Regions from separate parts of the Homo sapiens genome. Here regions 2, 3 and 4 are each linked to region 1. The links come from fine-mapping of genetic effects on gene expression. A gene starts in region 1. Each other region holds a variant in brackets. All regions are shown on one strand. Distances are from middle to middle. Region 1 holds the start of CAPN3 (calpain 3). Region 2 overlaps STARD9 (StAR related lipid transfer domain containing 9). Region 3 holds the start of VPS39 (VPS39 subunit of HOPS complex). Region 4 overlaps ZNF106 (zinc finger protein 106).

Evidence for each region. PIP is the estimated chance that this variant, and not a neighbour inherited with it, causes the effect.
Region 2: its variant is fine-mapped to the expression of CAPN3 in thyroid (GTEx, PIP 0.97).
Region 3: its variant is fine-mapped to the expression of CAPN3 in blood mononuclear cells (TOPMed, PIP above 0.99).
Region 4: its variant is fine-mapped to the expression of CAPN3 in whole blood (TOPMed, PIP 0.97).

The regions. Positions count from the first base shown.
Region 1 is chr15:42,355,882-42,363,988 of GRCh38, reverse strand. CAPN3 (calpain 3) reads right to left here and starts at 4,488. Exons shown (of 24, transcript NM_000070.3): 1 at 3,875-4,488. The coding sequence starts at 4,183. RefSeq lists enhancers at 1-533, 3,580-4,080.
Region 2 is chr15:42,629,449-42,637,555 of GRCh38, reverse strand. It overlaps STARD9 (StAR related lipid transfer domain containing 9), which reads right to left. Exons shown (of 33, transcript NM_020759.3): 4 at 2,584-2,700. Among named protein-coding and RNA genes, the nearest start is that of STARD9, 58 kb to the right of the region's middle. The variant C/T (reference allele first, on the strand shown) is at 4,679.
Region 3 is chr15:42,207,670-42,215,776 of GRCh38, reverse strand. It overlaps VPS39 (VPS39 subunit of HOPS complex), which reads left to right and starts at 7,473. Exons shown (of 25, transcript NM_015289.5): 1 at 7,473-7,696. The coding sequence starts at 7,624. It overlaps TMEM87A (transmembrane protein 87A), which reads left to right. Exons shown (of 20, transcript NM_015497.5): 20 at 4,028-5,330. The coding sequence ends at 4,069. It overlaps VPS39-DT (VPS39 divergent transcript), which reads right to left and starts at 7,376. Exons shown (of 3, transcript XR_932181.3): 1 at 7,093-7,376; 2 at 6,860-7,013. The variant G/A (reference allele first, on the strand shown) is at 4,297.
Region 4 is chr15:42,433,892-42,441,998 of GRCh38, reverse strand. ZNF106 (zinc finger protein 106) reads left to right here. Exons shown (of 22, transcript NM_001366845.3): 11 at 2,186-2,966; 12 at 3,332-3,387; 13 at 4,622-4,767; 14 at 6,481-6,615. Among named protein-coding and RNA genes, the nearest start is that of ZNF106, 53 kb to the left of the region's middle. The variant A/G (reference allele first, on the strand shown) is at 4,047.

The DNA of each region.
Region 1 (8,107 bases):
GTCCAAAATCCCACATTTATTGTTTAATAAAAATGGATATTGACATCTAAATCTCAGAATTAGATAGATTTGGGGCTCTAGAGCCAGATTGTGTGGGTTTAAATCCCAGCTCCAACCCTCACTAACTGGGAGATCTGGCGCGAGTTATTTAATCCCTCTGAGACTCAGTTCCCTCCTTTGTAAAGTGGGACAATAATGGTACTTCCTCACAGGATTGTTGTGAAGATTAAATGAATTAACATATGGAAAGCATTTAGTTACTGGCATGTGGTGAGTTCTCACTCAAGATTAGCGATTATCTTTACTGTTAACCACACATTACCAGGTGGCCCAGGGACTCCTGCATGACTCCCCATGGGGACTTGCCTCCAGAAAACTTACTGCAAGGAGGGCAGAGAGCAGAAGCCATGCTTCTTGCAGGCAGCTTGCTTCCCAGAGAAAGACAGAAGCCAAGAACTGGGCTTTACAGGTCAAGTTCTCTTTACAAACCCACCATGGGAAGGAGACAGGCCAGGAGTGTGGTGCAATTGAACCTTCCACCCCATGGAATGAAACACGACCTGCCCTCCCATCCCCAACCTATCCCTAGTATATTGGGCACCAGCATCCCAGAAGCCCTGTTCTAGAACCCATTCTATTCTGCCCTGGGATCTGTCATCAAGAAAACTTGCCTTAACAGTTGAGAAGTGTTGAATAATTTGTTTGCTTTCTGATCCTAGAAATAGATCATATAAGGAAAGTCTAGAGGAACCAGATTGTTTGCCCTGGAAACTCAATGCATGATGTTCCCGAGTAGAGGAAGAAAGTCTGTGAGGTAGCACTGGTGAGTAAGAGAAGAGATTACAGGTGAGCTGGGAACAGTCGGCCAGAGCCTGTTTTCTTTTAAGAGGGAAAGGCTGAAAGTGCAGCATGCTATTTTAACTAGAATTATAGTTGGCCAGGAATAATTCTCCCTTTATCATTATTATCATTATCACTGTAATTATAATAAATAATACTTGATGGTCGAAAAAAAATTCAGATTGGTTTCCAAAGGTTCTGTGCCTTAGACAGTAAAAGCAGGAAGGCCTTTACTCACCTGTGTGGTGCTTCTCCTGATAGGACACAGTCTTTTCAGACTGCATAGGGCTGGCAAAGGTCACTACATCTGAAGAAGTTTATGGAGAACTGATGTCTCCAAGAAGTGCTTTACAGTCAGAAAGTTCTGGAGTCATTTCAGTTTTTCAGTTCCAAGTCAACTTGTGTGGCTGTAGATAAGTCATTTGCCCTTTCTGGGCCTTAATCACCTATAAAGCAAGGACACTGGAGCACCTCTCCAAGAATCATTCCAACTCTGACCATCTCTAATTTTATATTTCTCATTTATGCTAGTGAACCCAATGGGCAGTGTTCCTGTGATCTTAACCCCAGGGGAACATGTGGGCATTTTATCCAAGAGTGGCCTTTGTTATCTGGTCCTTTAGTGACTCAAACAGTGGAAAATCCAGGATCTTTGTTGTTGGTGATGGTGGTGGTGGGGGCACAATTTAGAACAGACAAGTCTTCTGCACCCCTCATTTCAAACATGGACACTGCCCAATCTAGTACCTAGAGCATAACAGGCCCTTAAAGAATTTTTATTAATTTGTAAGTCTCGCTTGAAGACTCAAGTCCACCAATGATTTCACTGAAAACAGTATTTGTAGGTTTTAATTTTCCCCATTCTGAGAAAGAGCTTTTATTTTTTTAAACTTTTTTTATAGAGATAGGGTCTCACTATGTTGCCCAGGCTGGTCTCCAACTCCTGAGCTCAATTGATGCTCCCACCTCTGCCTCCCAAAGTGCTAGGATTACAGGCATGAGCCTCCATGTCTGGCCCAAGAAAGGGCTTTTAGGAACTCCCTGCCTGGGAACGCAGGCCTATCCTGTCTCACTGGTCAAGGCCCTTGGGCGTGGGTTTTCACTCACCAGCATCAGCTGAGTACCCACTATGGGACTGGCCTGAGCTTGGTGAGGGGGCCTCAAAGATGAACAGGAAGGATTTCTGCTCTCAGTGAGAGGAAATCAGTCATGAGAAAGATTGAAGGAAGTGACACCTGAGCAGAGGTTCAGATAGGAACAAAAAAGGCATGTCAGGCAGACAGACAGCATGAGCAAAGGCCTCCGGTGTGAGAAGACTTGGAACTACAGAGCAGCTAAATGTCCAAGCACTGCTGGTGTGTCAGGATCTGGGGAAAGAGGATGGACATGGGCCTGGACAGGTAGGCAGGGACCAGCTGAGAAGGGCCTATGGCTTGGCTAAGGAGTTTGGACTTGTCCTGAAGGCAGTGGGGGCCGAGAGAGGGATGTCACTGAAGATATTTCAGCAGGGGGTTGTGACATGTCCAACTACTCTGATAGCAGAGTAGTGTTATCTTCTAAACTGAAGGCCTTCAGGACAGTTATGGGCCTTACCATAGAACCAAGAAGAGCCCCTATGGAATATACAGGGTTGTCTAGTACTCCACCTCAGGTTTGTTGTTGTTATTGTTGTTGTTTGAGACTGGGTCTCACTCCTGTCACCCAGCCTGGAGTGCAGTGGCATGATCTCGGCTCACTGCTGCCTCAACTCCCCGAGTTCAAGTGATCTTCCCACCTCAGCCTCTGAGTAGCTAGGACCACAGGCATGTGCCACCATGCCTGGATAATTTTTTGAATTTTTAGTACAAAAGAGATAGGTTTTCACCCTGTTGCCCAGGCTGGTCTCTAACTCTTGGGCTCAAGCAATCCTCCAGCCTGGGCCTTCCAAAATGCTGGGTTTATAGGCATGAGCCACCATGCCTGGCCCACCTTAGGTTAAAGAAAACCATGGCTAATCAATAGTATTGGGTCTCAGCTTGTCATCATTTCCTCAGAGAGGGTTTGTCTCCCTGGACCAGGTTAGCTCTCCTTGCCACATGATCCTGTGGCACCCAGAACATCGTCTCCTGACAATGTCACTCTTGTTCAATGCCCATCTTCCCTTCAGGACCCTAGGTTCCAAGACAGCTGGAATTTTGGTCTTTCTTACTCACTGCTGTCCCCCCAGTTGCTTGCCCAGTGCTGGCACTAGTAGATGCTCAATAAATATTTCTCGAATTAAGAACAAGAGTCACACTGGAGGGATGATCAGAGAGGTGAGCCAGGGGAATGTGATTTCCCTCCTGGCGATCACTGTAAATGAAACCCAGAGGCTGGGAGAGTTTCCTAAAACAGAAAGTTTTAATCCGGGCTCTGTCATGTGCCCACTAGATATATTTCACTCTAGTGTGCCTTGACTCCTCACTTATGAGGTGAGGTAGGTGGACAAAAGCGATTGCTAGGTCTCTCTCTCTTTAACCCCAACATTTTATGCATGAAAAAATATTCCTTGCCTATGACTCTTCTCTTTCTAGGGTTTCTGTGTTTCAGAAAGATATGGCCATTGGTAAATTAAAGAAGAATAACATCATGATTTTAGCCAGAGAAACTGAAATAATCTTACAAAGATGAATAATATTTAAAACGAACAGGTACATCTGGGCTGTCTGGAATTTGTTCTGAGAAAGGAATATTTATTTTTACAGGATGAATTAAACTGAGTTCCACCCACTTTTATAAAAAGCAAGATTTTTTTTTTTTTTTCAGAGAGAAAGAGCCAGAGCATAAGAATCAGCCCCACCTCCTGCGCTCTCCCTCTGGATTTTGCTGAGATTTGGTGAAATATCTGAGACCTGTTCCTCTCCTCCCTGCTTCACACTTAAAGACAGAGCCCAGCAGAGCTGCTGCCAGGATCCTTCCCCCAGTGCCCATGTGCACAGCTGAGCTGCCGGAGGTGCTGAGTGAGAGGACTCCTCCGTGGGGGGAAAACCCAGCCAGCAAGCAGGAAGCTACTCACCGGAGGTCTCTTCCAGACGAACTGGATGGGGAACTTCTGGCTATAAAAGAGAGAGGTCTCATCCGGTGGGAACTCAGGGTCCACATAAAGAACTTTCTTTTCTAGACATTTCTTGTGAAGTTGCTCGAATGTCTTCTCTTTCACTCCGATAATAGGAAAATTGCGGCTGATGATGGCTGAATAGATGCCACTTGGGTTTCCACCCCCAGCCTCAGTGGCCTTGCTCTGGGCCGGGTGAGGAACTGGCCCTGGGGACCGGGGCTCAGCCGCTGTCCTTGGAGCCACAGATGCGCTAATGACGGTCGGCATGGCAAGTGGCTTTGGAAGAAAAAGCTTTTTAAAGAAAATAAGATACAGCTACCTTCAAGGAAAGGAAGCAACTGCAAAGGGGAAGTTGGAGTAATTCTGTCATCTGAGAGAAAAGTGTCCACATCCAGTTCAAAGTTGAAAGCCCATCAGAAGGTCGTACAGGTTATGTCCATCTTAAAAACCGAGCTGTGATTCTGAAGCCATAAGTTCTCCTGAGAAATGAGTGCTAAAGGATTTCTGAAGCAATGTTGACTTGGGGGTCTCCTACCAGCAGCATGCATGCCAGAGGGAGAGAGAAAGAGAGTGAGGGTTGTGTTTCAGTGGCCTGAAGATGCTTGAGCCAGGAAAACTAAAAATAGATGTGAAGAAACACTGTGAGTATGAGAGCAAGAGAGACTGCATGGTAGAGAGAGAACCTGGCTAGGGACATTTCTGTTGCCATGAAGTGCTGGTGTTGCCAGAAAATGAAAAGGGAGTATCTGAGTAAGGTGAACACTGGAAAGAAGCTGAGAACTGCTGACATGTTATTGAGTAGGCAGTTATACAGACCACCCAACTACTGGCCATCAAATGAATGGAAAACAATATTGCAAAAAAGCTAGTTAGGGTGAACGGGAGGTACTGAATTCTACAAAAATATTCTGTGAATTTTAGAGAACATGATTTTTAGTCCTAAAATTTTAGGATATCAGAACATTATTCAATGTTAGATTTGGTATCTTTTTTAGAATGTTCTTGGGTCAGCGCTCATTGGAAATGTCTGCATGGAAAATGCTACTCAGCAGAGTCCTCATTTGAGAAAATCCCTGTCTCTACCTGCACACTTGACCTTGCCACCTCTTGTCTCTCCCCATCCACAAAATGAACACTGGGACTGAATCTGCTAAAAAGTGGTCCTGCTGGGCCATGTGGCTCACGTCTCTAATCTCTGCACTTTGGGAGGCCGAGGCGGGTGGATCACATGAGGTCAGGAGTTCGAGACCAGCATGGCCAACAATAGTGAAACCCTGTCTCTACTAAAAATACAAAAATAAGCCGGGTGTGGCGGCGGGTGCCTGTAATCCCAGCTACTTGGGAGGCTGAGACAGAAGAATTGCTTGAACCCAGGAGGCAGAGGTTGTAGTGAACCCAGATCACGCCACTGCACTCCAGCCCAGGTGACAGAAAGAGACTCCGTCTTAAAAAAAAAAAAAAGTGCACCTGAGCAGAGAAAATCCTCACTTAACATCATCGATAGGTTCTCGTAAGCTGTGACTTTAAGCAAAATGATGTACTGTATAGTGAAACCAGGCTAACTGATATAAACAAGAGTTAAGTCCCTACAGCACACGGTATGTTTTCGTTAAAGTCACAGTTTACAAGCACCTATCAATGATGTTAAGTGAGGACTTACTGTACAGGTTATATGTTGACTCATTCAGCCATGCCACATTAGGCATCTGAGACAGAAGTTGGAATTAGATACTGAACCAGACTGTCTGTCAACTCCTGGGATGTCACACCTGGTTTCAGGGCTCTTAGATGAGAGCATAAGTGGCTCTGGGGAAGGGAAGTGCCTGCCTGGCCTCCACCTTGTCTTCTACCCACAATAGCTGCTCCCTGGGCTGTAAGGAGATGAGCACATTTCAAGTATGGCAGAGTGGAGGCATGTCCTAGGCTGCAGTCATGCCTGTTCCCATGCGACCAGTCTCAATAATCCAAGATTAGAGGCTATGGAAGAAGGTGGGAAGTGACAGGTAAAATAGGGAGTACTATCAGCCTCCTGATCCCTGGGATTGCGGCTTTGAAGGACTCTATGTCTGGGCTTGCAGGAACCATCAGCCTAGCCATCTGTCCCTCCAAGAAAATGCCCAGGGCTTTTTACTAGTCTTGGAGAGGCAGAATAGAGGACAGTGGTCTCTGGTGACTGACCACCTCGGTTCAAAGTCTAGGTTGGCCCCTTATTGGCTGTGCCTGTGTAACTTTAGGTGAGTTATTTCTTCCTTTCTGTCTCAGATTTCTCACCTATAAAATAGGTACAATTACAGTCATTCTGTTATTAGGTTTTGGTAACAATTAAATAATTTATGTAATACATTTTACACAGTGCCAGGATTTTCTTAAGCACTCAATAAATGGTGTTGTTAGAGAAGACCTGAATTTAATATTACTTTGGAGTTAGATCAGGTCGAATGCTACATTTACTCGCTGACGCAAATCAGCATCCACTCAATGGGCATTAACTGAATATCTGCTATGTGGACAGCACAGGAATAGGTATAATCTGCCCAGGCTCATGTGGTATGCAGCATCTCCAATCAGAAGCTGGCCTATCTGCCTGCAACAAAAAGACTGACTTCCACCCTCAAAGTCACCAGTGGCATAGACAGCAAAGGTGGGGTTTCTTTCCCCCACTGTCATAAGTTTGGGTCCCAGCCTAGCATTCTATCCCACCCTGAAATTCAGAGCACTGACCCACACTGTATTGTTTTTGCTTATTTAACTTCCCGTTTGCCCATAAGACCGTGGAGCTGGGAAGTGGGTTCCCATTTCCCTCTCAGGTTTAGAAGGCCCTTAATAAATGCGTGTTATATATCTGGTGAATGAAATTTTCCTATGCAAAGAGAAATTTCTTACACTTCTGGCTTTGCCAGTGCAATCAAAGTTTCTCTGCTGATCTGCTCCAGGCGAAGGAGCTGTCTTGGGCCGCATACCCACTGAGCTTTCTTTCCTCAGCTGTCTCAGCCAGCACCATCTGTGAGTAACTAACAGAAGTGTGTGACACCAGCGAGCCTCTTGTCAGAGCAGGGTGGGCATATCAAACACAGAAAGGGCAAGGTGCCATTCATTTTGCTCTGTCAGTTGTTGTGGATAAAACATTCTCTCAGATGAACAGGTCCAAACTCAAGGTTTATTCAATGGCACAGCTGTGGAAACCAATGCTATCAGGGAGAAGTCCAACTCGAGCCCATGAACAAAGGGCAGATAATGAACACATAAACAACTGCACATTTCAATTCCCAGAAGCCCCTTCAAGGATAAAGAACTAGTTTTTATAACATATTTCACCCACGGTCATGTAATATCTGTGGCTGGAATGGTTTCTGCTGCACAGCATTGCCAACTAATGGCTCTGTCTTTTCCACCAAGAAGCATTTCTTTGATTACTAACACTATTGGAAGCAATGTCTTTGCTTATCATTATAATACCTCTCATTCATTAAGTGCCTACTGGGAGCTAGCCACTTCACAGAGACCTTTAAAAAACTTTTTATTTTAAAATAATTTTAGACTTACAAAAGACTTGCAAAGACTTACAAAAGAGTTGCAAAGATAGTGTCCTCCAGTCTCTGATCATTCCACAGTCTTTGTCTCTCATGACCGTGACACTTTTGAAGAGTACTTGTCAGGTTTTTGTAGAATGACCCTAAATTTGGGTTTCTCTGATATTTTTCACATGATTAGACTGAGGTTATGGATTTAGGGGAAGACTGTCACAGATGTGACATGGCTACCTCCTCAAACCATATTTGGGGGCACATGATATTGATAGGTTTTATTACAGGTGATGTCAACTTTGATCACTTGCCTAAAGTGATGTTTACTGGGTTTCTCCCTGGTAATGTTACTATTTTTCCCTTTCTGTACACATAAGATATTTTAAATTTGTAGAAAAACTCTGCAAGTTTCACTAAGTCCATTTTACAACTGAGGAAACTTGAGATATCTGCTGTATTTTGACAGTTAAGTATCAGAAAACTCACAAAATTTTAGAGATTATCTCTCTTTTTTTTTTTTTAGATGGAGTCTCTCTCTGTCACCAGGCTGGAGTGCACTGGTGCAATCTTAGCTCACTGCAACTTCCGCCTCCCGGGTTCAAGCGATTCTCCTGCCTCAGTCTCCTGAACAGCTGAGATTACAGGCATGTGCCACCATGCCCTGCTA
Region 2 (8,107 bases), 270 kb before region 1:
CAGGCGGACAAGAGTATATGAGTATTCAAAATACACATTTAGACCAGGTGTGGTGGCTCACCCCTGTAATCCCAGCACTTTGGGAGGCCGAGGTGGGTGGATCACTTGAGCTCAGGAGTTAGAGACAAGCCTGGGCAACCTGCGGAGACCCTGTCTCTACTAAAAATACAAAAAAATTAGCCAGGCATGGTGGCGTGTGCCTATGGTCTCAGCTAATCGGGAGGCTAAGGTGGGAGGATCACTTGAACCCAGGAGGCAGAGGCTGCAATGAGCTGAGATCGTGCCACTGCACTCCAGCTTGGGTAACAGAGTGAGACCCCATCTCAAAAACAAAACAAAACAACAAAAACAACAACAGCAAAAAAACACATTTAGAAAGAGGTAGTTTCTTTTCCCATCTTGTATCCAGTGCTAACTTGTACTCGGTTAAGGGCTTTATACTTTTCGTTTAGTGGCCAATTTCTTTTTTTTTTTTTAATTATTATTTTTTTGAAATGGAGTTTCACTCTTGTTGCCCAGGCTGGAGTGCAATGGCATGATCTCGGCTCACTGCAACCTCCATCTCCCGAGTTCAAGGAATTCTCCTGCCTCAGCTTCCCAAGTAGATGGGAGTACAGGCACCCACCACCACACCTGGCTAATTTGTATTTTTAGTAGAGATGGGGTTTCACCACGTTGGCCAGGCTGGTCTTGAACTCCTGAGCTCAGGTGATCCGCCTGCCTTAGCCTCCCAAAGTACTGGGATTATAGGTGTGAGCCAACATGCCCAGCCCCAATTCTTCTTTTAATGTCAAATACTATGAAATCACACTAAACACAGGACAAAGCGAGCAATGAGCTAGGCCCAAGGCATCAGGGATAATCATCTAAGAGGAATCATGTCCTATAGAATGTCCCTGTGTAGTGTTTATTTGTTACCCACCTAACAGGACATATATACTTTTAGAGACAGGGTCTCTTTTTATTTATTTTTTTGAGACAAAGTCTCGTCCCATTTCCCAGGCTGGAGTGCAATGGCACAATCTCAGCTCACCGCAACCTCTCCCTCCTGGGTTCAAGCGATTCTCATGCCTCAGCCTCCCAAGTAGCTGGGATTACAGGCGCACGCCACCATGTCTGGCTAATTTTTGTATTTTTAGTAAAGACTTGGTTTCACCATATTGGCCAGGCTGGCCTCGAACTCCTGACCTTGTGATCTGCCCGCCTCAGCCTCCCAAAGTGCTGGTATTACAGGAATGAGCCACCCCACCCAGCTGAGACAGGGTCTCTTACTCTGTTGCCCAGGGTGGAGTACAGTGGCAAGATCATGGCTAATCACTGCAGCCTCAACCTCCCAGGCTGAAGCCATCCTCCCACCTCAGCCTCCTAAGTAGCTGGGACCACAGGATGTGCCCCCACACCCAGCTAACTTTTGTATTTTTTGTAGAGATGGAGTCTCCCTATGTTGCCTAGACTGTTCTCAAATTCCTGGGCTTAAGAGATCTTTCTGCCTCAGCCACCCCAAAGTGTTGAGATTATAGGTGTGAGCTACTACACCTGGCACCCTGACCAGGATATTTCTAAACCCAAAACAAAAAGGTATTCTTAAGCAACTCTGCCCTCCTGATTTTCTGTGATAAAGGAAGCCTCTCATTAAATCCTGCATACTTTTGAAAGCCCCTGACTCAGGAGCTAGTTCTCCTGCTTTCTTCCAACACACAGATCTAACACATGTAGGCTTGGAGCTTGGCCACAATAATCAAATCTCTGCACAGCTCTAGCATGCACTTAAGATTTAGTCCAGGTCTTGTCCACAACAAAGGTGCAAAACAGATCCAAATAATGAACCTGGAGATAAGTAGAAATTCAGCAGGACTGACAAGAACTGCTTTGTCAAAGGGAGCTGTAAAATTCTAAGGCTCTTCAGGGTTTAATAAAGAGGGGTTAAGGCCGGGCATGGTGGCTCATGCCTGTAATCCCAGCACTTTGGGAGGCCGAGGCGGGCAGATCACGAGATGAGGAGATTGAGACCATCCTGGCTAACACGGTGAAACCCCGTCTCTACTAAAAATACAAAAACTTAGCCAAGCGTGGTGGCGGGTGCCTGTAGTCCCAGCTACTCTGGAGGCTGAGGCAGGAGAATAGCGTGAACCCGGGAGGCGGAGCTTGCAGTGAACTGAAATTGCGCCACTGCACTCCAGCCTCGGCGACAGAGCAAGACTGCGTCTCAAAAATATATAAATAAATAAATAAGGGTTAATTATTCAAAGGTTACCTTCCAATTAAATGCTGAAAAACTCATTTTTTTTTTTTTTTGAGATGGAGTTTTGCTCTTGTTGCCCAGGCTGGAGTGCAATGGCACGATCTCAGTTCACAGCAAGCTCCGCCTCCCGGGTTCCCACCTTGTCCTCCCAAAGTGCTGGGATTACAGGCGTGAGCCACTGCGCCCAGCCGAAAAACTCATTCTTAAAACAGAAGAAGGCTCATTCAATCTTCTTTAAAGTTGACTGCCTACAGAAATCATATTCTGTCTCACAGTAGTAAGGACAATGCAAGGTTCAGGCTTGCTGTGGCATTAGGAATATATATCATTGTAATACTCACTGGGGTCCCCAGCATGGTATATGTCTTCCCAGAGCCTGTCTGTCCATAAGCAAAAAGGCATATGTTATAGCCTTTGGCAACTCCAGACAGTACTTCCATCCCTAAATCCTGGAAAACCTGTAACAACAAAAGCAGAGGAAATATCACTGTGGTCCTTCTTCTCATAGCAGATTTAGAATTATTTTCTAATCTAAAAAAATATAAAATATTTCAAACATACATGACTATTAATTCACTACCATTTCATAAGAATCAATTTAGCTTCATAAAAAGATAGCTAAGGAAAATTCATTCATTCAGCCGGTCAAATTTTTTAAGTGCCTAGTGTATCTAGACACAATACTAGACTCTGAAGATAAGATACAAAAGTAATATGGTCTCTAAACTTAAGGCAAAGAGAGTGTAGAAGAGCAAAGATATGCAAGCAAAATAATTCTGTATCTCTCGTAAGAAAACATTTAATATGGTTAATCAGGTAAAGCTGCAGTGAAATATTGCCCAATAACATACAAATTCAGGGTCTTAGGATACCATACTGAAGATCAGTAAGACCAGAAGTTAGGGAGGTGTTTTCCACATGCATTTATTTTCTACACACTCCCTCCTCAGATTGACCCTAAGAGCTGGCTGGTTCTGCTGGTCATTTACCCCTGCTTTAGTGAATCAGAAATAGGCAGAGGTCCTCATGTGAAAACTCCTGTACTTGGTATACTGCTTGGAAGTCCTACTGAGCTCTGTTAGGCAGACTCTGGTCTCAGGAAAAAATAGCCAGCTTTATGGGGAAGGCACAGCTTCCTAGTTCAGCCAGTCTTCAGCAGAATGCTACGTGGGCATCTGCATACCCACAGCTGGTACAGCGGATATTTACCCTTTGTATTGTTGCCCAGCATCAAAATACTCTTCCTTTGAATCTTTGGTTGTGTCAGTCTTGGTGGGAAGCACAGCTCAATGCTCTACTATAGAAGCCAAACAGGCCAGATATTCCTCTCCATCTAGGACAACACTAGCACATGAAATGAGGCCAGACAGGGCCAGGCGCGGTGGCTCAGGCCTGTAATTCCAACACTTTGGGAGGATGAGGTGGGTGGATCACCTGAGGTCAGGAGTTCGAGACAGGCCTGGCCAACATGGCGAAACCCTGTCTCTACTAAAAATACAAAAAATTACCCAGGCATGGTGGCGGGCACCTATAATCCCAGCTACTTGGGAAGCGGAGGCAGGAGAATCGCTTGAACCCAGGAAGCGGAAGTGCAATGAGCTGAGATCGTGCCACTGCCCTCCAGCCTAGGCGACAGAGTGAGACTCCATCTCAAAAAAAAAAAAAAAGAAAGAAAGAAACGGGGCCGGACAACTAGATGTCACTTGACAACTAGATTATCATTTGAATTTTGAAAGAAAGACATAAAAATAAAGAATAGTTAATAAATTGTCCATGCTGGCATCAAGGATCCAATAGCACTGCTGCTGGGCATACAGTGGTAGAAGTGCCAAGTGTGTGCTCAAATCAGATGATTCTGTGATATGGTTCTGCCTGGGGTCCCTGCTGCTTAGCATCCCATGCCTTCTTGCCCATTTTTCAACTTTCCCTTCAATTCTGTGACAACTCTGATACGATTCCAAGGTGTAGTGTATTCTTATACTTCAAAGCTGTGTGATCTTGGGCAAGTTACTTAAACTTTGTAAACTTCAGTTTCTTTAGGTATAAAATGTTTATTTTTGTATCTGTAATACAGGTTTGTTGTGAAGATTAAACAAAGTAATACACGTAATTAGGGACAAAGGAGCTGCTAACTCAAGACTACACTCCCTGTTCTTTTTTTTTTTTTTAATTGAGACAGGGTCTTGCTCTGTCCCCCAGGCTGGAGTGCAGTGGCACAATCTTGGCTTACCACAGCCTTGACCTCCTGGGCTCAAACGATCTCCCTACCTTGGCCCCCCAGCAGCTGGAACTACAGGTGTGCATCACCATGCCCAGCTAATTTTTTTGTATTTTTGTAGAGACAGGTCTCCCCATGTTGCCCAGACTGGTACTGAACTCCTGGACTCAAGTGATCCACGTACTTCAGCCTCCCAAAGTGCTGGGATTACAGGTGTG[C/T]GCCACTGTGTCTGGCTCTTTATTTATTTTTTTCTTGAGACATGGTCTTATCCTGTCAGCTAGGCTGAAGTGCAGTGGCACAGTCATAGCTTACTGCAGCTTCAAACTCCTGGGCTCAAGGGATCATCTCGCCTCGGCCTCTTGAGTAGCTAGGATTACAGACATTTTTATTAGTTTTCTCTTTGTTAGTTTATTTGTTTTAATAATCAGTGTTAAGTTGTCATCAGTTTAAACGAATGGGTTATTTGCAAGCCTTATGGTAACCTCAAATCAAAAAACCTACAAAAGATACACAAAAAATAAAAAGAAATTAAAACATGTCACCAGAGAAAATCACCTTCACAAAACAGGAAGACAGGAAGAAAAGAAAGAGGGAAGAAAAGACCACAAAACAACCAGAAAACAAATAACAAAATGGCAGAAGTCCTTACTCATCAATAATAACTTTGAATGTAAAGGGACTAAACTCTCCAATCAAAAGACAGAGTTAAATGGATTTAAAAAACAAGACCCAACAATCTGCTGCCTACAGGAAACACATTTCACCTATAAAGACACATATACACTGAAAACAAAGGGAGAGAAAAAGATAACCCATGCAAATGGAAACCAAAAAAGAGAAGTAGCTACATGTGTATCAGAAAAAATAGATTTCAAGACAAAAACTTAAAAGAGACAAAGGTCATTATATAATCAGAAAGGGGTCAATTCAGCAAAAGGATGTAACAATTATAAATATATATGTACCCAACACTGGATCACCCAGATATATATAAAGCAAATATTATTAGAGCTAAAGAGAGAGAGACCTCAATACCGTAATAGCTGGAGACTTCAACACCCCACTTTCAGCATTGGAAAGATCATTCAGACAGAAAATCAACAAAGAAATGTTGGACTTAATCTGCACTGTAAACCAAATGGAACTAATAGATATTTACAGAACATTTCATCCAATGGCTGCAGAATACACATTCTTCTCCTCAGCACATGGATCATTCTCAAGAATAGACCATATGTTCGGCCACAAAACACATCTTAAATAATTTAAAAAAAAAATCTTCCTGAAAGGTGGGTTAAGGAAAAAATAAATAAAAATAAATAATAAAACAATTCCAAAAAGCTGAAATCATATCAACTATCTTCTATTACCACAATGGAATAAAATTAGAAATCAATAACAAGAGGAATTTTGGAAACCATACACACACATGGAAATTAAACAACATGCTCCTGAATGACCACTAGGCCACTGAACAAAATAAGAAGAAAATTTTAAAATTTCTTTTTTTTTTTTGGAGACGGAATCTCGCTCTGTCACCCAGACTAGAGTACAATGGCGTCATCTCAGCTCACTGCAACTTCTCCCTCCCGAGTTCAAGCAATTCTCATGCCCTGGTATCCCAAGTAGCTGAGACTACCGGCGCACACCACCACGCCTGGTTTTTTTTGTATTTTAGTAGAGACAGGGTTTCACCATGTTTCCCAGGCTGGTCTTGAACTCCTGAGCTCAGGCAGTCTGCCCAACTTGGCGTCACAAAGTACTAGGACTACAGGTGTAAGCCCCATGCCTGGCCTAAATTTCTTGAAACAAATGGATACGGAAACAGAAGAAACAAATGGGATACAGTGTAAGTACTACTAAGAGAAAAGTTTACAGCAATAAGCATCTATATCAAAAAAGTAGAAAAACTTCAAATAACCTAATAATGCATCTTAAAAACTAGAAAAGTGGCCAGGCATGGTGGTCCATGTCTGTAATCCCAGCACTTTGGGAGGCCAAGGCAAGAAGATCACTTGAGCCCAGGAGTTCAAGACTAGCCTGGGCTCAAGCTCTATAAACTCTTGCAATATAGTAAGACTCCATTTCTATTTTTTTAATTAAAAAAAAAAAAGAGCTAGAAAAGTAAGAGCGAATCAAACACAAAATGAGCAGAAGAAAAAAACTTAGAGCAGAAATAAATGAAATTGAAATGAAAAAAGCAATACAAAAGATCAATAAAAATGAAAAGTTGGTATTTTGAAAAGATAAAATCGATAAGCCTTTAGACAGATGAAGAAAAAAAGAGAAGACTCACATAAATAAAATCAGAAATGAAAAAGGAAGCATTACAACTGACACTGCAGAAATCCAAAGTCCCATTAGAGACTACTATGACTATATACCAATAAATTGGAAAACCTAGAAAGAAATGGATAAATTCCTAGACACATGCAATCTACCAAAATTGAACCATGACGAAATCCAAAACCTGAATAGAACAGTAACAAGTAATGAAGCTGTAATAAAAATCTCCCAGCAAAGAAAACCCCAGAACCTGACAGCTTCACTGCTGAATTTTACCAAACATTTAAAGAACTAATACCAATCCTACTAAAACTACTCCAAAAAAATGAAAAAGGGAATACTTGCAAACTCATCTTTTAAGGCCAGTATTACCCTGATACCAAAACCACATAAAGATACATCAAAAAAAGAAAATTACAGGCTAATATCCCTGATGAACATTGATGCAAAAATCTTCAACAAAATACCAGCAAACCAAATTCAACAACATGTGAAAAAGATCATTCAGGCTGGGCGTGGTGGTTCATACCTGTAATCTCAGCACTTTGGGAGCCCGAGGCAGGGAGATCACAAGGTCAGGAGATCGAGACTATCCTGGCTAACGTGGTGAAACCTGGTCTCTACTAAAAATACAAAAAATTAGCTGAGTGTAGTGGCACGCACCTGTAGTCCCAGCTACTTGGGAGGCTGAGGCAGGAGAATCACTTGAACCCAGAAGATGGAGGTTGCGGTAAGCCAAGATTGCACCACTGCACTCCAGCCTGGGCGACAGAGTGAGACTCAGTCTCACAAAAAAAAAAAAAAAAAAAGAAAAAAAAGATCATTTATCGTGACCAAGTGGAATTTATCCTAGGGATGCAAGGATGACTCAACATATGCAAATCAATGAATGTGATACATCATGTCAACAGAATGAAGGACAAAAACCATATGATCATTTAAACTATTGTTGAAAAAGCATTTGATAAAATTCAACATCCTTTTTATGAGAAAAAAAAACCCTTGAGAAACTGGGTACACAAGGAACATACCTCAACACAATAAAAGCCATATACAAGAAGGGATCCACAGCTAGTATCAGACTGAACAGGAAAAAACTGAAAGCCTTTCCCTCTAGGATCTGGAATAAGACAACAATGCCCATTTTCACCACGGTTATTCAATGTAGAAGTCCTAGCTAGAGCAATCGGACAAGAGAAAGAAAGAAAAAGCATTCAAATTGGAAAGGAAGAAGTCAAATTATCCCTGTTTGCAGATGATATATTTGGGAAAACCTAAAGACTCCACCAAAAACCTGTTAGAACTCATAAACAAATTCAGTAAACTTGCAAGATACAAAATCAACATACAAAAATCAGTAG
Region 3 (8,107 bases), 150 kb after region 1:
CACAGGGGTTCCAATTTCTTTCTTTGCCCACATTTGTTATTTTTTGTTTTTTGATAATGACCATCCTAACAGGTGTGACGTGACACCTTGTGGTTTTGGTTTGTATTTCTCTGATGATTAGTGATGATGAGCATTTTTTTTATATACCTGTCAGCCATTTGGAAGCCCTCTTTTGAGAAATGTCTCTTCCAGTCCCTGGCCCAGTTTTTAATCAAGTTAGTTGATTTTTTGCTGTTGAATTGTAGGGGTTTCTTATATATTTTGGATATTAACCCTGATCAGATACAGTCCTATGCCACATTTCAGTCAGCAACGGACCACATATATGACAGTGGTCCCATAAGAACCTCCGGGTTCACGCCATTCTCCTGCCTCAGCCTCCCAAGTAGCTGGGACTACAGGCGCCCGCCACCACGCCCGGCAAATTTTTTGCATTTTTTTAGTAGAGACGGGGTTTCACCGTGTTAGCCAGGATGGTCTCGGTCTCCTGACCTTGTGATCCACCCACCTCAGCCTCCCAAAATGCTGGGATTACAGGCGTGAGCCACCGCACCTGGCCAATACTGAATTTTTACTGTACCTTTTCAATGTTTAGATAACTTTAGATACCCAAATACTTACCATTGTATTCCAGTTGCCTTTGGTATTCAGTACAGTAACATGCTGTACAGGTTTTTAGCCTAGAGCAATAGGCTTATACATATAGCCGAGGTATGTAGTAGGCTATATAACATCTAGATTTGTGTAAGTATATTCTGTGAAGTTCACACAGCTATGAAATTGCCTAATGATGCAGTTCTCAGAATGTATCCCTATCATTAAGTATACGTGACTGTATGTAGTATGCAAATATTTTCTCCAATTCTGTAGGTTGCTTTTCATTCTGTTGTGTGCTTCCCTTGCTGTGCAGAAGCTTTTTAGTTTGATGTAGTCCCATTGGTCTGTTTTGCTCTTGTTTTGTGCTTTTGGTGTCTTAGACAAGAAATCACTGCTAAGACCAATTTCAAGAAACTTAGGTTGTCTTCTAGGAGTTTTGTGGTTTCAAATCTTATGTCTAATTCTTTAATCTATTTTGACTTGTCTAAGTCTTTAATCTATTTTGAGTTGATTTTTGTGTATAGTGAAGATGAGTTACTTTCATTCTTTCTCATGTGAATATCTAGTTTTTCCAGCACCATTTGTTGAGGAAACTGTCAGTTTCCCCACTGTGTAGTGTTGTCTCTCTTTTCGAAGATCAGTTGACCATGTATGTGTAGTTTTATTTCTGGGCTTTCTATTTTGTTCCACTTGGTCATAGTATGTGATTCTTTCAACGTGCCGTTAAATTCTGTTTTCCATTGTTTCATTGAAGATTTTTGCGTCTGCTCATCAGGGATATTGGCCTGTCGTTTCTCTTCTTGTCATGTCTTTGGCTTTGGCATTAGGGTAATGCTGGCCTCATAGAATAAGTTTGGAAGTTCCTTCCAAATAAATGTTTTCGTCTTTAATTTTTTTGAAAGCGTTTAAGAAGGATTAGTGTTACTTTGTCTTTAAGTACCTGGTAGGACTCAACTAAAGAAGCCATCTGGTCCTGGGCTGTTTTTTTGTTGGGATGTTTTTGATTACTGATGGAATCTTGTTGTAGGTCTTACCAGGTTGTGTGTTCCCCCCCCGGATTTTCTATTCCTTGATGATTCAGTCTTGGTAGATTGTATACTTCTAGGAATTATATATTTTGTTCTAGGTTATCCAGTTTCTTGGCATATTTTTAAAAATGTTTTGTATATTTTTATTGAAATTCTTACTTTGTTCATGCATTGTTCTCCTGAGTTCGTTGAACATCTTCATGATAGTTGTTTTGCATTCTCTTTCAAATAATTCCTATACCTCTGTTTCACTGGGGTTGGTTTCCAGAGATTTATCTTCTTCCTTTGTTTGGGCCATGTTTCACTGATTCTCTATTTTCCTTAATTCTTTGTGTTGGTTTCATTGCATTAGAAAAAAAAACAGTTACCTTTCCAGTGTTCATGGACTGGCATTGTACAGGAGAACACCCTCATCAATCATTCTGATAGCCTCTCTAACCCACTCTGTATTATGTCTTTTCTGGACTTCTGCATATGTATTCCCAATCAGAGGGATTTGCTGGGTTTTTCCCTCCCCAGGAATTTATAATCTCTTGCTCCCTTTTGTGTTTATCTGCTGTATCATGGGTCTCCTGGAGCCAGTGGCATAGCCCAGCTCTTTTTTTGTTCATACTGGCCCCAGGCACCTAAAATATACTGGTCCCATCTGTGCTTCAAACCATTCCCTACAGAAACCATTCCCTCAGGTAACCTCTTACAAAGTTGGAACATTTTCACAGTCCATCTCTCCTCCCTAGGGAAAAGCTAGGATTTGGGGATGTTGGGGATTCTACCTGCTTACTCTGCACTGAGCTGGGGGAGCGGCTGTAGTGAGCTCATGCTTGCTAGTCCAAACTTCCACTTTGATTTCAGCAACTTCCAACCTGGGCCCTTTGTTTTTAGCTCTCGGACTCAGGCAAGACAGAAAACAGTCTCTCGTGCAGGTTCCAGAAAAGTCAGAATGTTGGATGTACATTCCAGTCATTTCCTTCCCTCTGCAAAAAGAAGCTGGGAGCTGAGGGTTTCCTCTCTATCATGTGGTACTGTGCTGGGTCCATGGGAAGGGAAGAATTATGGCAAGAGGGTGCCTCAGGTTTTTCTGCCGACTTTGATTCAGCTGGTTTCATGCTTTCCTATAGTGCAGAAGACCCTCAACTGGTTTCTGGATTTCCCACAAAGGGAATTTTTCCATGTGTTATTGAATCAGTGTGTCTGTAGAGGGAAGGAGTGTCCAGGGCTTCCTATTCTGTCATCTTGCTGACATCACTTTCTCCAAGGCCTTTTTTTCCCTTAAAACTGAAAAAGACCTTAAATGAATTACAGGAGAAACAATTTACATGATGGACCAGGAATCAAAATGGCATAAGGCTCTTCAACAACATCTTTGGGAGCCAGAACAAAGCCTTTGAATTCTGAGGAAAATCATTTTCAACCTAGAATTCTGTACTCAACTAAACTATCATTATGAGGGTAAAATAAAGATGTTTCTAGTCACACAAGAAGTAAAATAATTGATGTTCTATATGCAGTTTCTGAAGAAAGTAGGGGAAAATGTTCTCCACAAAAATGAGGAAGCTAGGAAAAAGACTTGGGATCTAGGAAATAAAGGGTCCAACACAGAGACAAGAAAAATTCCCAGTATGATGTAAGAAATTCTCAGGTTGGCAGCTGGGCACCAGGCTTGGATGGAGTGGAGAACAGAGAGCATCGGAAAGGATATTTTTAAGAAAAAGGGAAACATCTATAGATTATCTGATGTGATTGATTATATTCAAAAAGGATTTGTAGTTCTGTCAGTTTGTGATACAATAGTGAGAGGTACTTCGCAAATGAAGCAAAAGAAAAATGAAAATTAACTCTAAGGTATAAAATTGCCTAAGAAGGGAAATTTAAGGGTAGTACATTAATTATTTTAATTGAAATGGGATACTGTAAATACTATATTAAATTAAATGTAATTTTATTTTTTACATGATTTTTAAAAAGTGTAGTAAAAAACACATAACAAATCAACCCTCCTAACCATTCTAAAGTGCAAAGTGCTAACTAGGTGCACGTCTTTGCCCTCATCCTTCACTGGGTCTTCAAGTGAAATTCCTGAATTAGAGGAGTTACACATTTTTATTAAAGCCTAATCTTATGTAAATATTTGTTTACATAAGATCTTAGCTGACTCTATACATTTCCTTCTGAGTGCTGATTTTCTGTCCAGAAGCCTAGAGCTTTTGATTTAGTTGTTCTTGGGTGAGGTCTGGACATCTGTATGTTCAAAATCTTCACAAATGTTTAGGAACCATTTCTCTAAACATTTAATTAACATAAAGTACTCGTGGAAGATGTTTGCTTGGATAGTCTGTATAGAAGATATTTGGAATATAGATCATTTTAACCTAATATACTTCAACCTTTTTTTTTTTCCCTAGGAACGAATGATCACACACTTTGAAAGGTCCAAAATGGAGTAAGGAATGGGAAGATTTGCAGTTAAAGATGGCTACCATCAGGGAAGAGATCAGCATCTGTGTCAGTCTTCTGTACGGCTCCATGGGATTAAAGGAAGCAATGACATCCTGATCTGTTCCTTGATCTTTGGGCATTGGAGTTGGCGAGAGGTGTCAGAACAAAGAGAACATCTTACTGAAAACAAGTTCATAAGATGAGAAAAATCTACGAGCTTCTTATTTACAACACT[G/A]CTGCCCCCTTTCCTCCCAGACTCTGACATGGATGTTCATGCAACTTAAGTGTGTTGTTCCTGAACTTTCTGTAATGTTTCATTTTTTAAATCTGACAAACTAAAAAGTTTAACGTCTTCTAAAAGATTGTCATCAACACCATAATATGTAATCTCCAGGAGCAACTGCCTGTAATTTTTATTTATTTAGGGAGTTACATAGGTGATGGGGGAAATTGTTAACTACCTTTCATTTTCCTGGGAAGTCAAGGTTACATCTTGCAGAGGTTGTTTTGAGAAAAAAGGGCCCTTCTGAGTTAAGGAGCCATAGTTCTATCAATGATCAAAAGAAAAAAAAAAAAAGAGAAACTGTTACAGTATGATTCAGATCATTTAAAAAAGCAAAATCAAGTGCAATTTTGTTTACAAATGGTGTATATTAAAGATTTTTCTATTTCAGATGTACTTTAAAGAGAAATATTAGCTTAACTCTTTTGACATCTGCTATTGTGACACATCCCATTGCTGGCAATGTGGTGCACACTCCGAAACTTTTAACTACTGTTTTGTAAGCCTCCAAGGGTGGCATTGCAGGGTCCTTAGGCAATGTTTTGTTTGCCTTTATGCAGAGAGGTGCTCCAAGTGCTGTGATTGAGCACCGTGCTAGAGGAACTGTAATGCTTCAGAAGTTGTAGCTTATACAAAGGAAACAGGTCCTGCTGGCTTAATTTAAACAGTTATTGCATGAAGTAGCGTGGAGGCCCTGGACTGCTGCTCGTTCTTTAGGATGGACTGTTCTGGTATCTGGTATTGGTTTAGAGACTGTTAATAAGGGACATCACAAGGTGATGGGATTCATTTGAAGCACTCTATTTCTGTTTTAATGGTTTTATCCAATTTTGCCTTCCCAAGATTTTTGTTCTACATAAAAAGTTCATGCCACTTTTTAATATAAAAAAATTTAACAAAATTAATGTATTTTTCTCATTTTTTTCAAACTTTTTCTAAAGACTCTTTCTGTCAAACTCATGAAAAATTTCTTTCTATGGCTTTTATTCTAGATTGTCTTATTTTCTGTTAAAACCAATGACCACATGACCACAATCTTCACTAACTCATACTGCAGTGAAAGTGTTAACCCTTAGGTAGTTTCTCTACAACTCTTTGCTATGGTGATTTTTAAAAAAGTTTCCTAGGAAGTATCTCTGAGGAACAGCAATCTGAAGAACTGACTATATTCTCATGCTAAGTCATTAGCCAAAAGCTGGTGGTATTGTTGCATGCTGCTATTGCATATTAAAACGTAGCAGATGAATAATAGTTGTAATGCAGCAGGATAGTTGGTCAAATTATTTTTTTAGGCTGCTTTGATGTTGACTTGAGACTAGGAAAAAAAAAAGCCCATTGTGTTAAGCGGGAGTGTATAGTTCAAGTTCTATAGCCTGGGCCCTGATAATTCTACTTACAGCTTTCTGTATTACTGGGAATAGATATAGTGTGTCATTTCTTAGGTTCAGAAGAAATTGATAGCTTTGCAGTAATCTGTAAAACAATATAAACCTTAGGGTTTTGGGCCTGAACGAAAAGGTACTAGACCTTCCAGCACAACAGCTGGTAATTCTAAATTTTTAAGAAGGTGATCAGCTTCTATGGTGAAAATCAGCTATAACACAGGATTTGTGTAGCAATTTTCATGTTTTTGACTACTTGAAAGTACTTTTCACTTGATTATCAGAACAGCATTTGGTAAAGATGGGACAAGTATTCCTAATTTACATATGAAGAAACTGATATTGTGTAAAAATAAAATGACCAGGACCAGTTTTTTTGACTTCATATCACAGACTTACCCTTTTTCTTTTACATTTTTGCTTTAAACCCAAATGCTTAATTTTTTGACCTACGATGTTTTCCTAGGGGGAAATGACCAGATATAGATCATTCTTGCAGCCCAAACTTTGTTGTTTTTTAAGTCTTCAAGGGGAATACTAAGGTAACCGCAGACAGTACAGGTCCCAGGTCCTATAGGAGGAAAAGCCATGACACCTTCCTAAAGGAATATTAGGATGTAAGACACAGCTTTGGAAAGTTGAATTGGTAGGAATGTGGTCATCAAATTAAAAGGAGGCTTATTTCACTGACTTCCAAGAGTTAGTGAATCATCTCTTGCCTAAACTCTTGCTACTCAAAATGTGATCCAGGGACCAGCAACATCTGGGAGATTTTTGGTGCTCAACTGAGGGTCTTACTCTGGTCCTACTGAATCAAAAGAGGCATTTTAACAATGTCTCTAGGTGATTTGTATGCACGTTAAATTTGAAAAGCATTGGCCTCAAATGGTGGTTCTCAGGGTAATTTTGCCTCCCAGAGGACATACGGAAAAGAGACATTTTTATACCTCTGTGGGGAAGATAACTGGCATTTGGTGGGTGGAAGTTAGGGATGCTGTTAAACATCTTACATTGTACAGAACATGCCCCCTCCCCCAACAAGAAATTATCCTGTCCTAAATGCCGGTAGTGCTATCGCTGAACAACCCTAACCTAAAATGGTGGTTCTCAAGCTTTTAAGTGCATGGACTCACCTTGGGGTTTATTAAAACATAGGTTGCTGTTCCCTTCGAGTTTCAGATTCAGTAGAACTGGAATGGGCCTGAAACTTTGCATTTCTAACAAGTTCACAGGTGCTGCTGCTACTGCTGTTGTTGCTGGTCTAGAACCACTTTCAGAACCACTGGCCTAGAACAACCATGAAAGCATTAAGGTAAGGTGCTTGTACTAATTGGGATATAATGGTAATACTAAAGCTACCACTTACTGAGAGCTTAGTGGGTGTCAGGTGTTGCTAAGCGCTCACGACACTAGGTCACAGGTATTTACAAAAATTTTGCAGATTAGGAAAGTATGGCATCGAAATATTAAATTTTCTAAATCACAGCTAATTTCCTAATTGGTAGATCTCCGTCTGAGGTCGACGCCAAAGGCCGAGTTTTTAACCATCACGCCCACTGCCTAAAGCAGTTCTAAGATTAAGAGTTTGTTCCTTCTATGGTAAGCCCATGGCTACTCGGGATGGAGTAGCTATGGGTCCAGAGTGACGATGGCAACTCAGCAACAAAACAATTCATTTAGAGTGCACCGGGAGGAAGGGGCGGGACTTCGGCTGCGGAAGAGGCGGGCCTAACTAGCAGGAAGTCCGGGGTTGACGATGGCTGTGTTGTTGAAGGGCCTGTAGCCGGGGGGTTCCTGGCCGGATCCCGGTCTACCCTTAGCCCAGACTCGTTCCGGACCCCAGCCCGGCCCGGAACACTCTGGGCGAGACGGCGGTGGCAACTCTCCCCTTGCCGCCATGCACGACGCTTTCGAGCCAGTGCCGATCCTAGAAAAGCTGCCTCTGCAAATCGACTGTCTGGCTGCCTGGGGTGAGCCGAGGGGCCGCGGGGCCGAGGCGGAGTCAGCACAGGAGCGGTCCGGATCTTTTCTGAGGCCGGGGAAGTGGACAGGCGTCCATCCGTGTGGGCTTCGGTTGGATGCTACACGAGAGGGGCTTAGGATGAGAGAAGGCAGAGAGATGACCACCGGCTATAGACATCGATGTCTGTGGGGCTACTTGGGTGATCCCAGTGATCCAGTCATTTAGGGGAGTTCCCCTTGCTTTTGCTCTCTGTGCAGAGTGGGAGGATGAGCTTTCCTTTTTAGTTGTGCTCAGCTTTGGCCCATTTTGATTCCCACGAAGACTTCATTTTAGAGGGTCAAAGCAGTAAGAAGTTCTCAGCCTGCCAGGGGCTTGAAGTTGTCCAGATGTTTGTGTTGTTTTCTAGATGAAAGTCAAC
Region 4 (8,107 bases), 78 kb before region 1:
CATACTTGCTCATTAAAACTAAAATGAGCAAGTACAACTAATTTGTCACTGGAATTCTCTTCATATATACAGGAGGATTCTTTTAAAATATTTTAGAGAATGTAATTTAAATATCAGTCATTTTCTTTCATTTCCTCTAATCTAGGGTTAGAGTTGACTTTGTATTAGCACCCACAAGGTTCCATTTATTAGGATAAGTACAAAATTTGTTTCGTGTGAAATAAATGGGGTTGAAGTTAATTCAGCCAATTTTCTGAATAAGGTCTATCCTCTGAATTTCTTTGCACTTACTGTCTATATAATCTCAAATACAAACCAGGATTAATATAAGCGTGAGAGGCAGGTGGCCATGATGGGGTTTGGAATCATCTACTAAGAACTTGCTGTTGAGAAATAGCCAGGGTTTTCACTCTTTTCAAAAAATAACACTTACCTGGTTATCATTTGAGAATACGTCTAAGCTATGTAAAATCCTGTTAGAAGTTTGCATTACCACAGTGGTGCTGTATTTGAAAATTAAGTCCAACAAACTGGCATTGTGTGGTTTCCTGAGCAAAAGCAAAAAGTTTAAAAAATTACTCTAGATTTTACTACCAGTACTATGTTGCAATATTAATCTAGATGTTAGTATCAAATATATAGCTTATTTATTTATTGAGACAGAGTCTCACTCTGACACTCAGGCTGGAGTATGGTGGCATAATCACAGCTCACCACAGGCTTGACCTCCTGGGCTCAGTTGATCCTCCCACCTCATCCTCCAGAGGAGCTAGGACTACAGATGCCTGCCACCATGCCCGGCTAATTTTTTTTTTTTTTTTTTTTAAGTAGAGATGGGGATTCACCATGTTGCCCAGGCTGGTCTTGATCTCCTGGGCTCAAGTGATCCACCCGCCTTGGCCTCCCAAAGTGCTCAGATTACAGGTGTGAGCCACTGCGCGTGACTTAGCATATATATATATATATATATATATATATATATATATATATATATATATATTTTTTTTTTTTTTTTAGACAGAGTTTCGCTTTTTGTTGCCCAGGCTGGTGTGCAATGGCATGCTCTTGGCTCACGGCAACCTCTGCCTCCCAGGTTCAAGTGATTGTCCTGTCTCAGCCTCCCGAATAGCTGGGATTACAGGCGCCCACCACCATGCCCAGCTAATTTATGTATTTTTAATAGAGACAGGCTTTCACCATGTTGGCCAAGCTGGTCTTGAACTCCTGACCTCAAGTGATCCGACCGCCTCAGCCTTCCAAAGTGCTGGGATTACAGACATGAGCCACCTTGCCCAGCCCCTAGCATATTTTTAAAAATTATTTTAAATTTTTGTGGGTACATAGTAGGTGTATATATTTATGGATTACATGAAATATTTTGGTACTATTATTTTTCGTATTACATATTATTTCAATCTTTCTTAAATCATATTTTTGTGTTTACATGTAGAACTTGTACAAAGGAGCAGTCATATATAACCTGACTTTTTCCATTTAATATATAATGATTTTTCTGTTGTAAAAATAATTTATCTAAAGTATTTTATATTACAAGTTGCATAATATTTGAATAGTTGCATAATCTGGCTAAACAATAATTTATGTGGTGAATCTTTTTTGAATATTTAGTTTTCTAACTTTTTTCATATTCTGTGTAACACTGCATTGTATATGTCTTTGAGTACATCTGTGATTATTTCATCACTTTTAATTCCTAGACATGAAGTAACTAAGTCAAAGGAAATTGACATTTCTAAGTCAGCAAATTTTTTTAACTACTAAGCTGTAGCTAAATTGGATGGGTGTGGATAATGAAAACTTCAAAGAAATAAAAGTAAAAGGACTTCAGCTAAGTAGACATTTAAGTGTCTACTAAGAATAAACCACAATGTTAAATGTGTGGACATTTAAAACAAGAAAAAAGATTGATAGAAACAATCCCTCCCCACAAGGAGCTTTTGTAGGGAATAAGACACACAGTGTTTGTGAGATTCACGCAAGGCAGAGGGTAGTAAGTGTTGTCATAGGAGTGTATGTAGGTGATGGGAAACTGAGGGGTGAGATACCAGCTGAAACAGTCATGGTTTTCTGAACATATCATTGAAATATTTGGTAGAGTTTCAGTCAGTGATAAATTGCAGCAAACACAAAAAAGGATGCAATAATTTTTTTCCTCTCAATTCAGGAGAGATCAGTGACAGTTGTCCAGTTTATCCAGTCATCACTGCTAGATTGTCCTTACCAGAGTCAACAGAAAGTTTCCATGAGCCTAGCCAAGAACTGAAGTTTTCTGTGGAGCAAAGAAATACCAGAAACAGAGAAAACTCTCCCTCTTCCCAATCAGCTGGTCTTTCTAGCATAAATAAAGAAGGGGAAGAGCCAACCAAAGGCAATAGTGGGTCTGAAGCCTGTACCAGTTCTTTTCTAAGATTGTCTTTTGCTTCAGAAACCCCTTTGGAGAAGGAACCCCACTCTCCAGCTGACCAGCCTGAACAACAGGCAGAATCCACTTTGACATCAGCTGAGACTAGGGGAAGCAAGAAAAAGAAGAAACTCCGGAAGAAGAAAAGTCTACGGGCTGCCCATGTTCCTGAGAATAGTGACACTGAACAGGATGTTTTGACTGTTAAACCTGTAAGGAAAGTAAAAGCTGGAAAGTTAATTAAAGGGGGGAAAGTAACAACCTCCACTTGGGAAGACAGCAGGACTGGTCGGGAGCAGGAGAGTGTCAGAGATGAGCCAGATAGTGACTCGTCTCTGGAAGTCCTAGAAATTCCTAATCCTCAGTTAGAAGTAGTAGCCATTGATTCTTCAGAATCAGGAGAAGAGAAACCAGACAGCCCATCTAAAAAGGATATTTGGAACTCTACAGAGCAAAACCCACTAGAAACGTCTCGTTCTGGGTGTGATGAAGTTAGCTCTACCAGTGAAATTGGCACTCGCTATAAAGATGGCATCCCTGTAAGGTAAGAATATTGTATTGGTCCAGTCAGAACAACTTTCACCAACTTTATTTTTTTAAATAGAATTTGAAATTATGAATCAGAATTTCTTTAAAAACCAAACTTTATGTGAATGCAGTAGAGATTGTGGATATGGAAAAATTAAAGCTCAGCAGTAGAGATTTTCTGCTTTCTCTTTTGACTGTGTTATAAATATTCACTCTGCTTTTATTTCCCTTCATTAAGAAATTTCAGATGGAAAATCTAATCTCTTATATCATTGCTACTTTGCCCATTGTTTAGAAAAATCCTTTGAGTCAGAAATTTTTACTTTTACTACCTGCCCTGTTCACACAGATGCTGAGAACACTTTTGCTATTATTTTGTAGTGTGGCAGAAACTCAGACTGTGATCTCCTCCATAAAAGGATCAAAGAATTCTTCAGGTATTTGCTGTTCAGTTTTATTTAAGTTAACCACAGAATTAAAAGCCTTGTAAATATTAAAGCCAGGATTTAAACCTACTTAAATATATTTATAGAATAGGAGAATGGGGAGGGGTTTATCACCAAGAGGATTGCCTTGATCAACAGTTCTGATATTCTTAAAACCTCAAATCCTGGTCTTTCAGATTCTTATTCTCATCTATCTGATTGATTGACTGGTTGTAACAGAGTCTTGCTCTGTCACCTGGGCTGGAGTGCAGTGGCGCTATCTCTACTCACTGCAACTTCCACCTCCCAGGTTCAAGCAGTTCTCCTGCCTCAGCCTCCCAAATAGCTGGGACCACAGGTGCGCGCCATCACGCCTGGCAAATTTTTTTTTGTATTTTTAGTAGAGACAGGGTTTCGTCATGTTGGCCAGGCTGGTCTCGAACTCCTGGCCTCAAGTGATCCTCCTGCCTTGTCCTCCCAAAGTGCTGGGACTACAGGCGTGAGCCACCATGCCTGGCCTTTCTCATCTGTCTTATCCGGCTCCCTTATCTGTTCAACTAATTAGTATTAAGGTTTCATTGGCTCTAAGGATATTTGCTTTCAGAAGGAACTGCTTAAGGAATACTACATTACTCAAAGAAATAACTTTTTGGAAGTGTGGGAGAGATTGG[A/G]TACCTTCCAAGTATCACTCAAAGCTCTTTTTCTTTTTTTTTTTTTTTTTGAGACGGAGTCGTTGTCGCCCAGGCTGGAGTCCAGTGGTGTGATCTTGGCTCACTGCAACCTCTGCCTCTGGGTTCAAGTGATTCTCTTGCCTCAGCCTCCCCAAATAACTGGGACTACAGGCTCACGCTACCACACCTGGCTAATGTTTGTATTTTTAGTAGAGATGGGGTTTCACCATGTTGGCTAGGCTGGTCTCCAACTCCTGACCTCAGGTGATCCGTCCATTTTGGCCTCCCAAAGTGCTGGGATTACAGGTGTGAGTCACCACGCCTGGCCCAAAAGCTCATTATATAATTATCTATCTTTTTCCTAAGTGAAAGGCCTTCTCTGCCTTTGCTTATCATGCAGTCTTCATAGTGAAGATGGGTATTGAAAATTGTAGTAGTCTGATAGGGGAACTAAGATTTAAGGGATCTACTTTTGGTTTAATCTAGGGACTACTGTATTGTATAATAGTTCTGATTTTTGAGTATCTTTTCAGACTCTAGCAGACATGTCTCTGAAACCTATTCTTGTTTTCCAGAAATATCTTCAGAGCCAGGAGATGATGATGAACCCACAGAAGGAAGCTTTGAGGGACACCAAGCTGCCGTAAATGCAATTCAGATATTTGGGAACTTGCTATATACCTGTTCAGCAGATAAAACTGTTCGGGTTTATAATCTGGTGGTAAGTTGATAGAACATGTAGAATGTTTTTGGTTGCAGGTTTTGGAAAATCCAGTTTATACTTTTTTAAACAATAAAGGGAATTTGTTGGCTGTCTGAAGGAAGGGGTGGGCCTGAGATTGACTTTAGATGCATTTAATCCAGAAGCTCAGCAAGGTCACTGGGGACTTAATTTCTTTTTGTCTCCCTACTCTGCCTTCTCTGGTATCACCTCTTCCTGAAAGCTAGTTCCCCTCCTGCTTACAGGGTAAATGTCAGGAGCCACTGGAGTCTCTTTTTCCCTCCCACCAGCACAGAAGGGTCCTGTGTTTTACTCCCTGAACGATCACCTTTGCCTGTGGCAAAGGGGGTTGGGATTACACCAGTGGTCTTGGACTGTTCAGGTCCCAATGCTGGAGTTGGTAATGGGGTCACTTGCATAGCAGCTACATAATAGAGGAGGGATGAAGTGAATATGGGGAAGTACTGGAGGAGGTATTTTCCCTGACAAGTGATTGATTACAGAGTTCAAGTTATTAAGGAGAGCAACACTTTTCCACTGCCTCACACTTAGTATTATCTGATGCTTATTACTCTCAAAAGAATGAACTTTTGAGTTTTGAATTTGAATTTGTTAATAAACTAATTATGTTTATGAACAATGAAAGCTTAAGAAATTTGAAGAACATGATGTCTGAATGAATACCATGAAAATATTTAAAATTGCTAGAGTCAGTGAAAATTAAAAAGTTAGATGATGGACCAGGAAAATGTGTTTGCTATATAGGCAACAGGTGTGTAGATTCCTTTAGCTTAATGATATGAGGATTAACACGAATGACTGAAAAAAGGAAGCAGTGCTACCAGGATGTATAAGTGTAAGATCTAGGGGAACAGGATATCAAAATATGTATGTGTATGTATATATGTACATTCTAAATAGATCTCAGTATGTGCACTGAGATAACATTTGGAATGTACCCATAAGAAACACCACCAGTGGCCGGGCACAGTGGCTCACACCTATAATCCCAGCAGTTTGGGAGGCCAAGGTGGGTGGATCATGAGGTCAGGAGATTGAGACCATCCTGGCTAACATGGTGAAACCCCATCTCTACTAAAAATACAAAAAATTAGCCGGGGGTGGTGGCGGGCACCTGTAGTCCCAGCTACTTGGGAGGCTGAGGCAGGAGAATGGTGTGAACCCAGGAGGCAGAGCTTGCAGTGAGCTGAGATCGCGCCACTGCACTCCAGCCTGGGGGACAGAGCGAGACTCTGTCAAAAAAAAAAAAAAAGAAACAACACCAGAACCACTAGACCTGTGATAGCACCTGACGTTTTTGAATACCATGGTGCATTCTCACAAACTGCTTATCAAATGCTCATCTTTTGTGGGAAATTAGCTGCAGTTTGGATTTGCTAGGTCCTTGGTCCATATGTCAGAAAGCTTTGCCCTAAACGTTAATTAAAATTCTGGCTGTCTTACAGTGTTGCCATAAGTATTTTCTGGTATGGCTCAACTAACATATACTTTCAGATACCTCATTGCCTGTGACTGTTTGCTAGGCACTTGGTGAACATACATTTACTGAGCATCTTTTGTGTACCAGGTGCTGTTTTAGACATGAGGATACAGCAGTGAACTGAATGTTTTAGCATCTTTTTGTTGAGGAAATATATTATCTAATCCTCCTATATCTCATAAGTAATAATCTGGTCTGTGCTTAAACTTTAGAGTCGGAAATGTATTGGTGTCTTTGAGGGTCATACCTCCAAAGTTAACTGCCTCCTGGTTACTCAGACCTCCGGGAAGAATGCTGCCCTTTACACCGGGTCCAGTGACCATACCATCCGCTGCTATAATGTTAAGGTAGGTGGGTCCAGAGAAATCCAAAGTGGTTCATATTGAGTCGCCTTTGTATTTACTGTGTGGAGTGGAGACACTGTGGCAGACGCTTCATTCTACCCACCATCTCCTTTTTGCTTCTAAACAATGTTTAGCACATTGTTGTAGCCCTAGGTAGATATGAGACTTACACATAAACCATATTTTCTGTCTCTCTCCACCAGTATTTTTTCACTTCCTACTATTAATAATATACCTTCCTTGGTCTTTGCCATAAATGTTATGCATATCATATGTCAAAACTAATCCTAGATAGAATAAAGAGAAAAATGTAGGCCGGGCTCAGTGGCTCACGCCTCTAATCCCAGCACTTTGGGAGGCAGAGGCGGGTGGATTCACCTGAGGTTGGGAGTTTGAGACCAGCCTGACCAACATGGAGAAACCCTGTCTCTACTAAAAATACAAAATTAGCCAGGCATGGTGGTGCATGCCTGTAATTGCAGCTACTTGGGAGGCTGAGGCAGGAGAATCACTTGAACCCAGGAGGTGGAGGTTGCAGTGAGCCGAGATTGTGCCACTGCACTCCAGCCTTGGCAACAAGAGCGAAGCTCCGTCTCAGGAAAAAAAAAAAAAAAAAAAGAGCAAAATGTATAAACTTTTTAAATCTGCAGAATTAGAAATGGACATCTCCTCTGAGAGTTTTTTAAACCTAAATGCACTGAAAGACATGAGAAAATTACATTTAAAATTATATACAATATGTTTTTAATTTCTTTAAAAGATGGAGGTATGTGAAGCAGAATTTATGACTATCATTAAGTTTATAACATAGGTGGAATATATGTGATAACAGGAACATAAAGAAGGGGGAGGGAATGGAGCTGTGCTAGGACAAGGATCTTATATTTTACTGGGAATAAGTATTAATTTGAACTAGCTTGTTATAATTTTAAAAATATAATCCCTAGAGGCACTGGCTCACAACTTTAGTGTGCATCACAGTGACCTGGACAGCTTGTTAAAACACATATTACTGGTCCCCACTCCCAGAGGTGTTTTTTTTGTTTGTTTGTTTTTTGTTTTTTAAGGTACAGGGTCTCACCATGTTGCTCAGGCTGGTTTTGAACTCCTGAGGTCAGGCAGTCCTCCCACCTTGGCCTCCCAAAGTGCTGAGATTACAGGCGTGAGCCACCACATGCAGCCCTTGCCAGAGTTTCTGATCCAGTAGGCTTGTGATCAAGCTCCCAAATTTACATTTCTAGGCGAGGTACTATGGTTCATGTCTGTAATCCCAGCACTTTGGGAGGCCAGAGCAGGAGGATTGCTTGAGGCCAGGAGCTCAAGACCAACCTGGGCAACATAGCAAGACCCTGTCTCTATAAAAAATAAAAATCAGCTGGGTGTGGTGATGCACACCTATAGTCCTAGCTGTTTGGGAGGCTGAGGTGGGAGGATCACTTGAGCCCAGGAATTCAAGGTTATAGTGAGCTGTGCTTGTGTCACTTCACTACAGCCT